Homo sapiens: one gene and its partners. The protein of the gene in region 4 purifies or fractionates together with the protein of the main gene of each other region. This does not show direct contact. Each region holds a gene or a part of one and is shown on either strand. Other genes may lie near its edges.

The links.
Region 1: the proteins of NPY2R (region 4) and LTN1 purify together in Homo sapiens (affinity purification with mass spectrometry; 2 studies listed by BioGRID and IntAct, with this or other methods). This does not show direct contact.
Region 2: the proteins of NPY2R (region 4) and EVI5L purify together in Homo sapiens (affinity purification with mass spectrometry; 2 studies listed by BioGRID and IntAct, with this or other methods). This does not show direct contact.
Region 3: the proteins of NPY2R (region 4) and INTS1 purify together in Homo sapiens (affinity purification with mass spectrometry; 2 studies listed by BioGRID and IntAct, with this or other methods). This does not show direct contact.

What each region holds. Positions count from the first base shown.
Region 1 is NC_000021.9:28,982,878-28,986,377, forward strand, and holds part of LTN1 (E3 ubiquitin-protein ligase listerin), read right to left. Parts: intron 3,361-3,500; coding exon 3,262-3,360; intron 2,046-3,261; coding exon 1,815-2,045; intron 1-1,814.
Region 2 is NC_000019.10:7,836,718-7,840,217, reverse strand, and holds part of EVI5L (EVI5-like protein), read right to left. Parts: intron 1-3,500. UniProt on the Homo sapiens protein: Functions as a GTPase-activating protein (GAP) with a broad specificity.
Region 3 is NC_000007.14:1,476,890-1,480,389, forward strand, and holds part of INTS1 (integrator complex subunit 1), read right to left. Parts: coding exon 3,428-3,500; intron 2,796-3,427; coding exon 2,541-2,795; intron 1,997-2,540; coding exon 1,837-1,996; intron 1,618-1,836; coding exon 1,477-1,617; intron 1,048-1,476; coding exon 864-1,047; intron 785-863; coding exon 661-784; intron 30-660; coding exon 1-29. UniProt on the Homo sapiens protein: Component of the integrator complex, a multiprotein complex that terminates RNA polymerase II (Pol II) transcription in the promoter-proximal region of genes.
Region 4 is NC_000004.12:155,214,606-155,217,576, reverse strand, and holds the end of NPY2R (neuropeptide Y receptor type 2), read right to left. Parts: coding exon 2,492-2,971; 3' UTR 501-2,491; downstream 1-500. UniProt on the Homo sapiens protein: Receptor for neuropeptide Y and peptide YY. The rank order of affinity of this receptor for pancreatic polypeptides is PYY > NPY > PYY (3-36) > NPY (2-36) > [Ile-31, Gln-34] PP > [Leu-31, Pro-34] NPY > PP, [Pro-34] PYY and NPY free acid.

The DNA.
Region 1 (3,500 bases), on a different chromosome or scaffold from region 4:
CATGTGCCAGGTATTGCTTTGAGCACATTTTAGGCATTAACTAAATCAATCCTCAGAACTCCATGAAGTACAAGTTAATTCCTGCTTTATAGATTATGAAATGAAGGCACAGAAACTTGCCCAAGGTCACACACCTAGTTGCTAGCTGATGGCAGAGTGGGACTAGAACCAATGGTGTGACCCAGAGCCCATGTCTTATAGACAGTATGATATACTATCTATAATGCTGACATTTTGATTTTCATTTGCCTAACTCCTCTCTAATACATGGGTTTGGAACTGGAGACAGTTCAATGCCAACAGCTGTAATGAACTGTAACATAGCCAACTAAAGGGAAAATAAAATGGAAGAAATAACCCAATGTTCAATGATTAGTTATCCATCCATGACAAAGCCAAGAACAAATTTATTTTCTAAAGCCTATGAAGAGCCAAACTAGTTGTCTCAAAATCCATTTCCTAAAGCTCTTAGCGTCCAAACTCATGACACTTCACTCTTGTAACGTTTATAACTTGGCATTTTAAATCAACCAATGATTCTTATGCTACAGATGGGTTAGAAAACTCCATTTGAGCATATGATTAAAGCTACAAACCCTCTCTCTAGAAAAACACGCTTGGTACACCTGAGAAATGAAGAATGGAAGAACCTAAATGAGGTACTACAATCAAGTTATGTGTTGGGGAGTGCTGGGTGAAGAGATTAGATAGGGAAGCAGGGACCAGATCATGCAGAGCCTTGTATGTCAAGACAAGAAATTTGAACTTAAAAGTGTAATGGAGAGCCACAGGAAGGATGGCTAATTGAAAGGAGGAAGGAAAGCAGGGGGAGAGGGTCAGATGGAAATGTTTAAGTAGGGTTATACACAGGGTGTTGTGGAAACACAGGAGTACTAAATAAGGGAATAAATGCAAGCATAGATTTTTTAAAAAATTATCAATTCCCTCCTCACTTCTACTTCATCTACTTTTATTTCTCAATATAATTCTAACAACTTTGTTGTCTGGTTTTTCTAGTCCATATATTGGGAATAGAAAATGAAGGGGGAAGAAATGAGACACTACTAGAAACAGACACACTGAAAGCCACAAACAGGTATGGCTGGTAACTTTTTATGAGAAAGTTATGGCAAAAGTGTTAGCCCAGTGTGGAGAAACTTTATCTGAAAATGGGAGTATAAATTTGTTTGGCCTTTTGAAGGGCCATTTATCATTATAAAAAATTTTAATGTTCTTATTCTTTGGCCCAACATATGCTTACTAGAAGTTCTAGTAAGTATCACTCCCACAAGGGTATGAAGAGATCTACTCAAGAATGTTTACTGAAATAGCATTTGTTATGATAAAAATTGGAAAAAAATCCAAATGTATATTAATCTAAAAAGTTAAATAAACTACAGTACATCCATGTATAGTAATACCAGAGAGCCAATAAAAAGAAAAAGACACTAAGTTAGATCTGTATATATATATATATTGATATGGAAACACGAGAGAAAATAATTTTAGATTTATTTTTAGATATATTACTTGTTTAGATTACATAAAACATCTACTTTTTAAAAATATAATAAAGACTTCAAAATTAAAATGGAAAATTTAAATACTGTAGAAAGATCCAATCCAAAATGTTAATCTTGTTAAAGATCCAAAATGGTTATTTAACTAAACAGAATTTTAAAAAGGCAACCTTCAGTTGGAAATACTCTACTTACTCATTCCCCTACAATCCCAAGTAAAAGAGCTGTCATTATGCTTATAACCCTTAAATACTTAAAAAAAAAAAATAGATTCAGAATGATTCCAGAACTTACACTTGTAATTTCATCCTTACAAAATGCTATGGCTTCAGGTTGCTTGCTTGGAGGAAAAGCCGCTTCAAATGCATCTTTTGCTGCAAACGCAGCTGGTGTGTAAGTATCACACTGAGCCATTAGCCAATATCCCATTAAACTTTTTAAGTAGGGAGCCAACTGTTTCTTTACTTTAAGGATAAGTTTTTCAAAAGCTTGTTGTGTGGCTTCTCGGACGCGACGGTCATGATCCTATTAAAAATATAAATGTGATTTAAAATAGCTCTAGCCCATAAAAACAATCACAGACATTTCCGGATATGCTATAATGACCCATTACCAAGAATTCACCTATGTATTAAGCTAAACTGAAATCATTTTTTTTAAATCAATAATTTGGAGGTTTTTAAATCAGAAACTATGTAAAATAATTTATTAATTTTTCTTTCTCCCCTTCTCCCAATGAGATAGGATTGTATTCAAGACAGATTCAAAGTTGGGCCTTGAGGCCGAGCCTGGTGGCTCGTGCCTATAATCTCAGTACTTTCGGTGGCCGAGGCAGGCGGATTATTGGCGGTCAGGAGTTCAAGACCAGCCTGGCCAACATGGTGAAACCCCGTCTCTACTAAAAATACAAAAAATTAGCGGGGCATGGTGGCACACACCTGTAATCCCAGTTACTCAGGAGGCTAAGGCAGGAGAATCACTTGAACCCAGGAGACAAGGTTGCAGTGAACAGAGATCGCGCCACTGCACTCCAGCCTGGGTGACAGAATGAGACTCCGTCTCAATTAAAAAAAAAAAAAAAAAAGTTGGGTCTTCAATAATTAAGCAACTCACTCTCATTCTTCTGCAGCAAATATACAGGGAATAAAATCACTATCAAAATTTATTAAAACTGGAAAGCACCTGGGTAATTCTCCAGTAACAACCTAATTTCTGAAAACAGACTTCCTAAATGTTCTTCATAACCCAACACAATCCAATCTTTTTTTTTTTTTTTTTTAAAGACATTGTCTTGTTCTATTGTCCAGGCTGGAGTGCAGTGGTGCAATCTTGGCTCACTGCAACCTCCGCCCCACCGGGTTCAAGCGATTTTCCTGCCTCAGCCTCCCAAGTAGCTGGGATTACAGGCATCCATCACCACACCCGGCTAATTTTTGTATTTTTAGTAGAGACAGGGTTTCACCATGTTGGCCAGGCTGGTCTCAAACTCCTGACCTCAAGTGATCTGCCCACCTCAGCCTCCCAAAGTGCTGGGATTACAGGCATGAGCCACCATACCAGGCCCCAATCTCTTTTTTTATTTCCACGCTCTTCTCAAGTGTTAACAATTCAATCTGCATAACAATGCTGACATAACATTTAATAACCCTCACCAAAAATCAACATTATAAATTTGAGAGTCTCCATGACTCCAACCAAAAAATATACAACAGAAATAAACTAGCAAAGTTTTAATACTTACAAGTGAAATTTTGCAAAAAATTCTTGGCCAATATGGAAGAACTCCTTTCACAGTTTCTGTGTCTCTCTCTGTACACATGGTTCCAAATTCCTGCATAGCCTAAAAGTAAGTTATTAACATCATTAGGATTAACAACCATAATAACTGGCTATAGATTATTCTGTTCTGGAAGCTTTGTCTATTTTATGTAATAGGAGAATACACTATTTCTCTTTATGCCATATGAGACTAGTTTGAAG
Region 2 (3,500 bases), on a different chromosome or scaffold from region 4:
CGTGAGCCACTGCCCGTGGCCTAGGTTTGCATTTTAGAAAGACCCTTCTGGCCCCTCATGCGGAGATGCTCTTCAAATTCAATGCTTTCCTGACAGAAGCAGGCCCCTTGTCCTACTGCGGGTGCATCTATCTGGGTCCCCGGTGCCACCTGCCACCTCCACCCACCCACTCTGGCCAGGCCTGGGTGTTCCCCTCCTCCCTTCTCATGTTCTAGAGCTCAGCCAAGTCTACCACCCACATCCCACACCTCACTCCCAACTGGCCTCTGCTCTCCAGGCTGGAAGCTGCTGTCTTTTTGTTGTTGTTGTTGCTTTTAGAGACAAGGTCTTGCTCTGTTTCCCAGGCTGGAGTGCAGTGGTGCGAGATCCTGGCCTCAAGTGATCCTCCCACCTCAGCCTCCTGAGTATCTGGGACCACAGATATTCGCCACCATGCCTTGCCAATTTTTCTAATTTTGGAGACTTGGGGTCTCACTATGTTGCCCAGGCTGCTCTTGAACTCCTGGCTTCAAGTGATGCTCCTGCCTCAGCCTCCCAGAGTGCTGGGATCACAGGTGTGAGCCACCGTGCCCCACCAAAGCTGCTGTCTTGATGGCGCCTGCCACGTCCATTGAACTTTCTGTCCTTTCTGATGCTCTGTCCATGGGGCCACCAGAACCATACAGAACTGCAGCTCTTGCCACGTCATTGCCTGCCTAAGACCCTTTAGCAGCTCCCAATGGTGAGATGGAGCCCAGATGTCTTTGCAAGACGTGCATGCCCTTCCCAGCCTCGCCTCTTTCTGCATCCCTGCTTGGCACACTCAGTCCTCCAGGCACATGGGTCTCCTGATGTCTGCCAGTGTCTGTGCATACTCTGTTCCCTCTGACTGGAAGGGCATTCTCCAAGACCCGGTTTGGATTTTTTTTTTTTAGATGGATGGAGTCTTGCTCTGTCGCCCAGGCTGGAGTGCAGTGGCGCGATCTCGGCTCACTGCAAGCTCCGCCTCCTGGGTTCACGCCATTCTCCTGCCTCAGCCTCCTGAGTAGCTGGGACTACAGGCACCCACCGCCACGCCTGGCTAATTTTTTGTATTTTTTAGTAGAGATGGGGTTTCACTGTGTTACCCAGGATGGTCTTGATCTCCTGACCTTGTGATCTGCCCGCATTGGCCTCCCAAAGTTCTGAGATTACAGGCGTGAGCCACCGTGCCTGGCCAAGGATTTTTTTTTTTTTCTTTTTAGAGACAGGGTTTTGCTCTGTCTCCCAGGCTGGAGTGCACTGGTATGATCATAGCTCACTGTTCACTGCAGACTTGACCTCCTGGGTTCAAGTAATCTTCCCGCCTCGGCTCCTCAAAGTGCTGGGACTGTGCCTGGCCGGTTTGGCCATTCTTTCTGTGAAAACTTCTCTGTCAACCTCCCTTCTTCCAGCATCCTGGCTCGCTTTTCCCCCTCTCTCTCCCTGAAAACATCCACCCCTCTGCCTACACCCAAGCCCAATGCACATTCTATGGCAATTATTTCTAAACCTGCCTGCCTGCCTGCCCTAGGGTCATGCACGATTTGAGGACAAGAGCCTCTCTTCTTAATTCTCTATTCCAAGCCCCTAATGCACTATCTGGCATTCAGTACATGCTCGACAAACGTTTGTTGAATAAATGAAGATGAAACTTTCCATGTCGCTTAGGCAGGTGATCAAGGTCAACATCAACAGTGATAAGTTACGTGGCTAACACGTACCCTTGATAGGATGTGACAGAAAGGACCCTTCACCCCTGTGGTCTTCCTCCCCAAGACCCCAGTCTAACCATGAGAAACACCAGAGTGGCTGGGCATGGTGGCTGACACCTGTAATCCCAGCACTTTGGGAGGCCAAGGCCGGCGGATCACTTGAGGTCAGGAGTTTGAGACCAGCCTGGCCAACATGATGAAACCCTGTCTCTACTAAAGATACAAAAAAATTTGCTGGGCGTGGTGGCACATGCCTGTAATCTGAGCTACTCAGGAGGCTGAGGCAGGGGAATGGCATGAACCCAGGAGGCGGAAGTTGCAGTGAGCCGAGATTGCACGACTGCACTCCAGCCTGGGTGACAGAGCGAGACTCCGTCTCAAAAAACAAAACAAAACAAAACAAAAAAAAACCAACCAAAAAAAAAATAAACACACCAGACAGATCAGTATTAGAGGACATTCTACACAACACCTACTCCACCTTCCTCAAAACCGTCAAGGTTGGCCGGGCATGGGGGCTCACACCTGTAATCCCAGCACTTCGGGAGGCTGAGGCAGGCAGATCGCCTGAGGTCAGGGGTTCGAGACCAGCCTAACCAACATGGAGAAACCCTGTCTCTACTAAAAATACAAAATTAGCCGGGCGTGGTGGCACATGCCTGCAATCCCAGCTACTTGGGAGGCTGAGGCAGGAGAATCGCTTGAACCCAGGAGGCAGAGGTTGTGGTGAGCCGAGACTGCACCACAATTGCACTCCACCCTGGGCAACAAGAGCGAAACTCCATCTCAAAAAACAAAAAACAAAAACCAAACCAAACCAAACAAACAAAAACGTCAAGGTCACGAAAAGCAAGGAAAGTCTGAGAAACTGTCACAGCCCAGAGGAGGTTAGGGAGACATGACGACTAAATGTCATGTGGGATCCTGGGATGGAAGAAGGTTACTGGGAAAAAACAAAGGAAATCTGAATGAAAGGTGGACTTTAGTTAATAATAATATATCAATACTGGCCCATTAACTACAACAAATGTATCATATGAATGGAAGACATTAACTATAGAGGAGACTGGGTATGGGGCATATGGAAACTCTGTATCGTCTTCTCAATTGTTCCATAAATCTCAAAGTGTTCTACAAAATAGTCTTATTTTATTTTATTTATTTTTTATTTTTTGAGAAGGAGTTTCACTCCTGTTGCCCAGGCTGGAGTGCAGTGGTGTGATCTCGGCTCACTGCAACCTCCACCTCCCAGGTTCAAGTGATTCTCCTGCCTCAGCCTCCCAAGTAGCTGGGATTACAGGTGCGCACCACCACGCCCGGCTAATTTCTGTATTTTTAGTAGAGATGGGGTTTCACCATGTTGGCCAGGCTGGTTTTGAACTCCTGACCTCAGGTGATCCGCCCGCCTCAGCCTCCCAAAGTGCTGGGATTACAGGCGTGAGCCACCACAACTGGCCATTTTATTTTATTTTTGAGACAGGGGTCTCACTCTGCTGCCCAGGCTGGTCTTGAACTCCTGGCCACAGGGGATCCTCCTGCCTCAGCCCAAGTCTATTTTAAAAATAATAATAAAGGCTGGGTGCGGTGGCTCATGTCTGTAATCCCAGCACTGTGGGAGGCTGAGGGGGGGCAGATCACTTGAGGTCAGGAGTTCGAGACCAGCCTGGCCAACATGGTGAAACCCTGTCTCTATTAAAAATACACACACACATACAAAATTAGCTAGGTGTAGTGGCGCATGGCTATAATCCCAGCTACTCCTGAGGCTGAACCCAGGAGGCAGAGGTT
Region 3 (3,500 bases), on a different chromosome or scaffold from region 4:
AACGAGGGCACCTGGGCCTGACCTTTGCCCTGGGGAGGGAGGAAGAAGCCCGGATGGCCTCACCTGGGCCAATGGCAGGCTCTGCTGAAGTCAGCTGACAGCTTCCCCAATGAGCCACTCAGAGAGCCGAGGCTTGGGGTGCTGCCGGTAACACCGGCCCCGTCATGGTGCTGGAGGGCCGCTCCTGGTGGCTGCGCTGCATCTCCCCGCCCCTTCCCACGGGAGCCATGCCACACAGCGGAGGTGCCCGGGGCTCCATGCAGCCTCTCTGGTGAGGCCGTCCCTCCCTGGAGGATGTGGGGAGCCCAGCACCTGCCCTCCCTTCTCCTGGCCACAGCCCCATTCCCTTTGGGAAGATGGAGGCCCCTACATGATCTACAGGGTTTGGCAGGGCCGACCCCACCCCATCCACCCACCCCATCCCCACATCTGGCTGGTCACAGTGCTGGTCCACAGGTGACTGTGACCCTGGCCTGGGTTCTGCTAGGGCCATTGGGGGACCTACCCTTCCTCTGGGTTGCTACAGGGACACATGGCCTGAGAGCAGGGGGGGTGCTGGGGCCCCTGCAAGGCTCGCCCAGGCCAAGGCTGCTGCACTTCAGGTCAGGAAGAGCCTTTACCCTGGGGTGGGTCCCCGTGCTGAAGCTGGGTGCCACCCACCTTCCTCCGGGAGAAGAGCAGCCTGAGCTGCAGGTCGGGGCAGCTGCTGACCACCTCGGGGTCCAGCATTTCCAGCCAGTCCACTAGGAGGCCTGACGAGGGCCCCAGCCGCACGGCCTCCAGGCTGCAGGGAGAAGGTGGCTCAGGGAAGGGCTGGTGCCACCCGCCTGCCCACCCTGGCCGTGTGCAGCACCCCAGCTCACCTGCCACCGTCCGCACCCGGCTTCCCCCCAGCCAGGGGCTCCTCCTCCTGCAGCAGCAGGGAGCTCACCACCACAACGGGCTTACAGGCTGGAAACGGGGAGGCAGCATCCGCAGTGGCAGAGAAGAATGCAGTCAGCAGCTCCTCCAGGTGGGGGGACCTCACCTCGATCAGCCCCTGGAGGACTGCGCAAGGGACAAAGAGACATGTGGGTCACTCCCAGGTCGGGTGGGGGCCGCTGAGTGGGTGTGGGCTAGCCAGGGTGGGGTGTGGGGTGAGCATGTGTGGGACACAAGAGCAGAGTCCAGCCGGAGCCAGAGAGGAGAGTGCAGCCGGGGCCGGAGAGGAGAGTGCGGCCGGGGCTGGAGAGTGCGGCCGGGGCCGGGGCTCACTTTGCTGGGTGCAGCAGTGATCAGGGGCCCCCCAAGGAGGAAGCTCCAACTCATTCTCAAGAGGCCCCGCCCTGAGCCATCTGGGAGGGGACCTCTGTGGGCACTTTCCGGGGACAGTGCTGAGCAGACACTGTCCGTCCCCCACTGGGCAGCTAGAAGGAGCCTCAGGTTTGGGTCTTCCCAGGGCCGCCGTGGCCCAAGAGGATGGTGCCAGGAAGGTACCTTTGCTGATCAGGTCCGGCTCCACGCTGCACTGCTCCCCAGACCTCAGGGTGGCGATGACGGCACGGACGGTGGAGCTGACCACCTCCAGGTCCTGACGGAAGGCCAGGGCCTCGGCCAGGCGCAGGAGCCCCCCTCGCACTGTGGGAGGTCTGTGTGAGTGCCCTGTGGCTCCAGCCCTCACCCCATCGGTGTATCCCATCCAGGGAGGCCCCACGGTAGAAGGGCTCCCCTGGGCCCACGCGGGTACCCACCCCCCAAGCCACTGCCCAGGCCTCGGGGTGCCAGGCAGCTTGGCCACTCTGAGTGAGCCCCTGTCCAGTGCCCCCCAGCCGTCTGCCAGCCCGGCGCGGTCCTCACCATCACTGAGCCTGCGCCCGGCTGAGGCCTGGCTGGCAAGCATCCTGAGCTGTGCCCGCAGGGGCCCGCCCTCCACGCCAGGGCTGTCCAGCCACTGCAGCATCTGCAGGAGCACCTTCAGGAAGAGCGAGGAGAAGCCGGTGTCCTGTGGCACACAGCGCTGCGGGGACAAAGTGGCACGTGGCTACCCTGGCAGAGGACACACGGGGACCCGGCACCCGAGGCCCAGAGCAGGGCCCGTGAGGCTGCTGAGACCTGCCGCGACCGGCACTTGGAGCCTGGGCCAACCTCATCCCGCCTCCTGTCTGAAACGGTGCCTCCCCTGCACGGGCCCAGACGACCTCACAGAGACCCTTTCAAAACCCCCCAGCTGGTGAGGGCTCCCACGCGGTTCAAAGGAAAAAGTAAACACAGACACCAAGTAAAACACAGTCCTAGGTACCAGCAGATGGGGAAAGCAAGGCAGGAGCGCCGAGCCTGGGTGGTGCAAACAGGCGGACGCCGCACTGCCCCCACCTCCCGTCCCGGGGGAATGTTCACTGGAAAAAGGGGACCTGCCGCCACTCCCTGGGGCACTGTCCTTTCTCACTTGGAAACTGAGACCCAAGACCCACAGAGGAGCAGTCACAGGACACCCGGGCCGTCCTGCGGGAGGCAGAGCCCTCACTGCCCTCCTCCCCCGCAAGAGGCCCACGCCCAAGTACCTGGTACTGGCAGAGCTGGCGCAGCAGCGGGCAGGCCAGGAAGTGGCTACGGTGCATGGACATCACCAGGGCACCGCCGTGTGGGGAGCTGAGCAGGGTGGCGAGGGCCTGCAGGACACGCACCGTGATGCCCGGCACCTCGGGGCTGCCCTGGACGACGCGGGCCAGCTCCTGGCCCAGGGCCTGCTGCAGGGCGAGGGCCACGGGGCGGGGACTGGAGCTCTGCCACCGAGGGTCCGGGCTGAGCGGGAAAATCTGGAACGGGGAAGGCCAGTGTCAGGAGGAAGCGGAGGAGAAGGAGGAGGAGCGCAGCGGAGAGGCTAAGCGCCCGGTGCAGCTCCGTGCCAGAACCGCGTCCCATCGTGTCCCTGTTCATTCGTAGCCCCCACCTTGTGGCCTGAGGGGCCCAGGGCCCTTGAGACCTGTGATGTGAAGCAGTGAGGGACCCCAACACCCAGGAGCTGCCCCAGAGAACAAAGGTGTCCAGAGCCTGCCCAGGGACCACCAGGCTCTCCATCAGGAGGTGGTGAGGCCTGCAGGATCCCCGGCTCCAACAGCCAGACCTCAGGCGAGACCTGCAACCTCAGCTTCTGTACACATCAAACCGGGTGCCCCGCGCAGAGGGGTGTGCAAGGATGGCAGGGAGGATGCAGGGCGACCCCCTTCCCCAATGTTGGCCTAGCCTCCATCTGAGAGCATGGGGGTGTTACGTGAAAGCAGCGTGCCAGGGTCAGGCGGTCACGCGTGTAAAGGCCGCTGTGCGTGTGCAGCGTGCCTGGGTCAGGCGGTCACGCAAGTAAAGGCCGCTGTGCGTGCGAGGCGGCAGCGAAGGCTGCACGCAGGAAGAGGGGCTGCAGGTGGAGACCCACATGCAGCAGCAACGCTACCTGGAGGAACATGCCAGCCAGGTCGTCCTCAGGGCCCAGCACCCGGAGCTGGGTCCCCACCCGAATCCGGCCC
Region 4 (2,971 bases):
GATTAAAGAAACACGTAGGAATTAAAACAAGATGTGGGAATTAATTAGATACATGCGATAAAGAGACTTGTAAAGGGTGATTCCAAAATGTAAGGCTTTTGGGAAATAGGTACATAGTAGTGTCATGATTGAGACAGAGAATACGGGAAGACAACGTGGAGGGGAGATGGGATGAGGTGTGCATTGAAATGGCAGGTTCTGTTTGAGATTTGATTTGCTGGTGAGACACCCATGTGGACATGGTCTATTGGCCGGTAGAGATACAGAATTGAAGTTAAGAAGAAAGGTCTTGTCTGAAAAATGAAGATCCACGTATCCTCATATTATGTATTGTAATTGCAGTCGTAAGAGTGGATCCATTGACTCAGGTTCAGGTACAGAATGGAAAGAGAGCTGGACTAACTGTGGAACAGCAGCCCTTATTTTTCTTTTTTAGTTGCATTAGTCTTACTGCCTTGTCTTAGACAAGCACTCTGATATAAAATTCCACACAATTTCTCTCATTTTCCCAACTTTTTAATTGCAACATAAAGCCTCTACATAAAAGGTATTTTATTAATGAATTGACATAATGAATTGGATAAGATATATGTTAATTGAATCATTAATTGGATTCTAATAATTTACTAATACAACATGTAACACAGTAGCATATACATTTCTTACAGTGTAATAATTCACCAAGAGGGAGGGTAAATCTTTAACCACAGTTTTCTATTAGCATCTTAAGCAAAGTGACTGCTACTTAAAAGACAAAAAGGTTATTTTTGAACAATTTGCCTAGTCTAACAGAAAAATGAATCATTTGATTATATATTACAGATATACATTACTTTTTGTTCGCTTCTTAAAGTCTTACACCTAATCTAACATATTGTTTTCATTCTTTTTCAGTATTCCAGAAGTGCAGTGCACTTAAAAACCAGTCCTTTATATCTATCATGGAAGGAATTTAATAGGAGCTATAATATGAATTTTAAATATATCCACAAAGTAAAGCTCTCCAGTTCATAAAATTAATGTTGTAACTATATATCATATGCATGTTGAAGTTTTTTGCTTTAAAAATATATTCACAAATTCTGTCATATTTACAAAAATATGACTAATGAAACTTTAATAGCATCTAAAGACGTATGACTATTTTAACATCTCAGTTGTTATTTTTTATGAACATAGAAGGTTTTTAAGCATCTTTGGTTGGGTACTATTGAAATAACAATTTTATTCATAATATAATTAAATAAAAAATACTGTAGCATCTATGTTCTACAATTTATAGAAACAATTTTTATGTATATATTCATATTATATAAAAATATAGCTAATTATTTTGAAAAGAAGACAAATAACTTATGTGAAACTGGTTTGAAATACAACATTTGCAAGATGAAATGAATCCAGTGTTTTTAGTACCTCTTACAGATAGGTCCATTTTAATGTAATTACATTGTTTTATTTAGTATGAATGGGTCCGTGGAGGATGAATTTCAAAGAAAATAACACTGCAGTGTTCTTTAAATACATGAGAGCTATGTACCTGTGCAAAAATAGCTTGTAAATACTGTGAAATGTTACAACATGCCACAAAAATTATTCTCTAGTCTGATTTAAATTTTAGTGTAGACAAACTTAGCTCCAATAGGAATAACAACAGAAATCATACATGTTCAAAAAGGTATAACAATAAAAGTATCAAGTTGTATTCTTGTTATCTAAATAGTATCTCCATAAAGCGGATGTAACTTGAAATTAGAAATTAAATGATGGTTTGCATTTCCTGTAATTCTGAGAATTTCAGCTTTTGATTCAGAGTTGAAGAAACTTTCACCAAACGTGCAATTGGTTTTAAGAACAATTGGCCCACTGAGTGTTGAGGAGTTCCCCTATCATCTGCCAAAATATTAATTATATAGCAAATTTCAGTTTATCTCCTCGAAGCCATTCGTATAGTTGGCAATCGTTTCCTGCAGCATTCCCTGATGGATTTTGTCTAGAGAATGAACAAAAAAATCAAAATGCGATGAAGGAGAGCCTGTGGCTCCCTGGAGAAATTTCTGTTCAGTGGTGTTTTCATAAGCCAAGCAGGGAGCAGCGAACTGCACACCTCCTCAATCCAGGTCCTAACGTGATTTGAAAGTCAACTTATTTTCCCACCGTCTCTCAGCAATGCTTTGATAATACCAATTTCTTGTTCAAGTTTTCTTCACTCCAGGAAAATAATCAAAAGTACTTCTCTCTGCTTTTACTCATAATGCAACCTACTACCCAACCAACTGTTAAGTAAACCATTTTGTTGCCTTATCTTTGAATTCCAGTATTTTCACACAGGCTCTGCCCAGCCAGTTTTCCAGGAATTAAACAGCAGATGCTTCCATTTAGATCCACTTCTTCTTTAAAATGGGAAATCAGTTTTCACTTGTGAGCCGCCATCAACCAGATTCATAGCTCTGGTCAGAATTCATCCATACATTTTCACACCACAGCTTCCTTAGACATTGGTAGCCTCTGTGAAAGAGTCATTGGGGCCACTGTTCTTTCTGACCTCCAGGTTCTTTTTAGCCTTGAATGTCACGGACACCTCAGAGTGAATGGCATCCAACCGCTGCTCACAGCGGAAGGCCGAGAGGAAAGCCTTTCTGTAGTTGCTGTTCATCCAGCCATAGAGAAGGGGATTGGCAAAAGTGGAGCACATGGCGATGATGTGGAACACTGTGAAGATGAGTTTGTACTCCTTCAGGTCCAGGACCTGGCTGTCAATGTCAACGGCAAGCTGGAAGGCATGGAGAGGCAGCCAGCTGACCGCAAACACCACCACCACACACACCAGCATTTTGGTGGTTTTTTGCCTTCGCTGATGGTAGTGGTCATTTGCAGCTCCAGGACTGACATGGTTCTTCAATTTACTCCAAATGCGAGTGTAGGAAAATGATATAATGCCCAGAGGCAAAACATACAAGATCAACAAGGA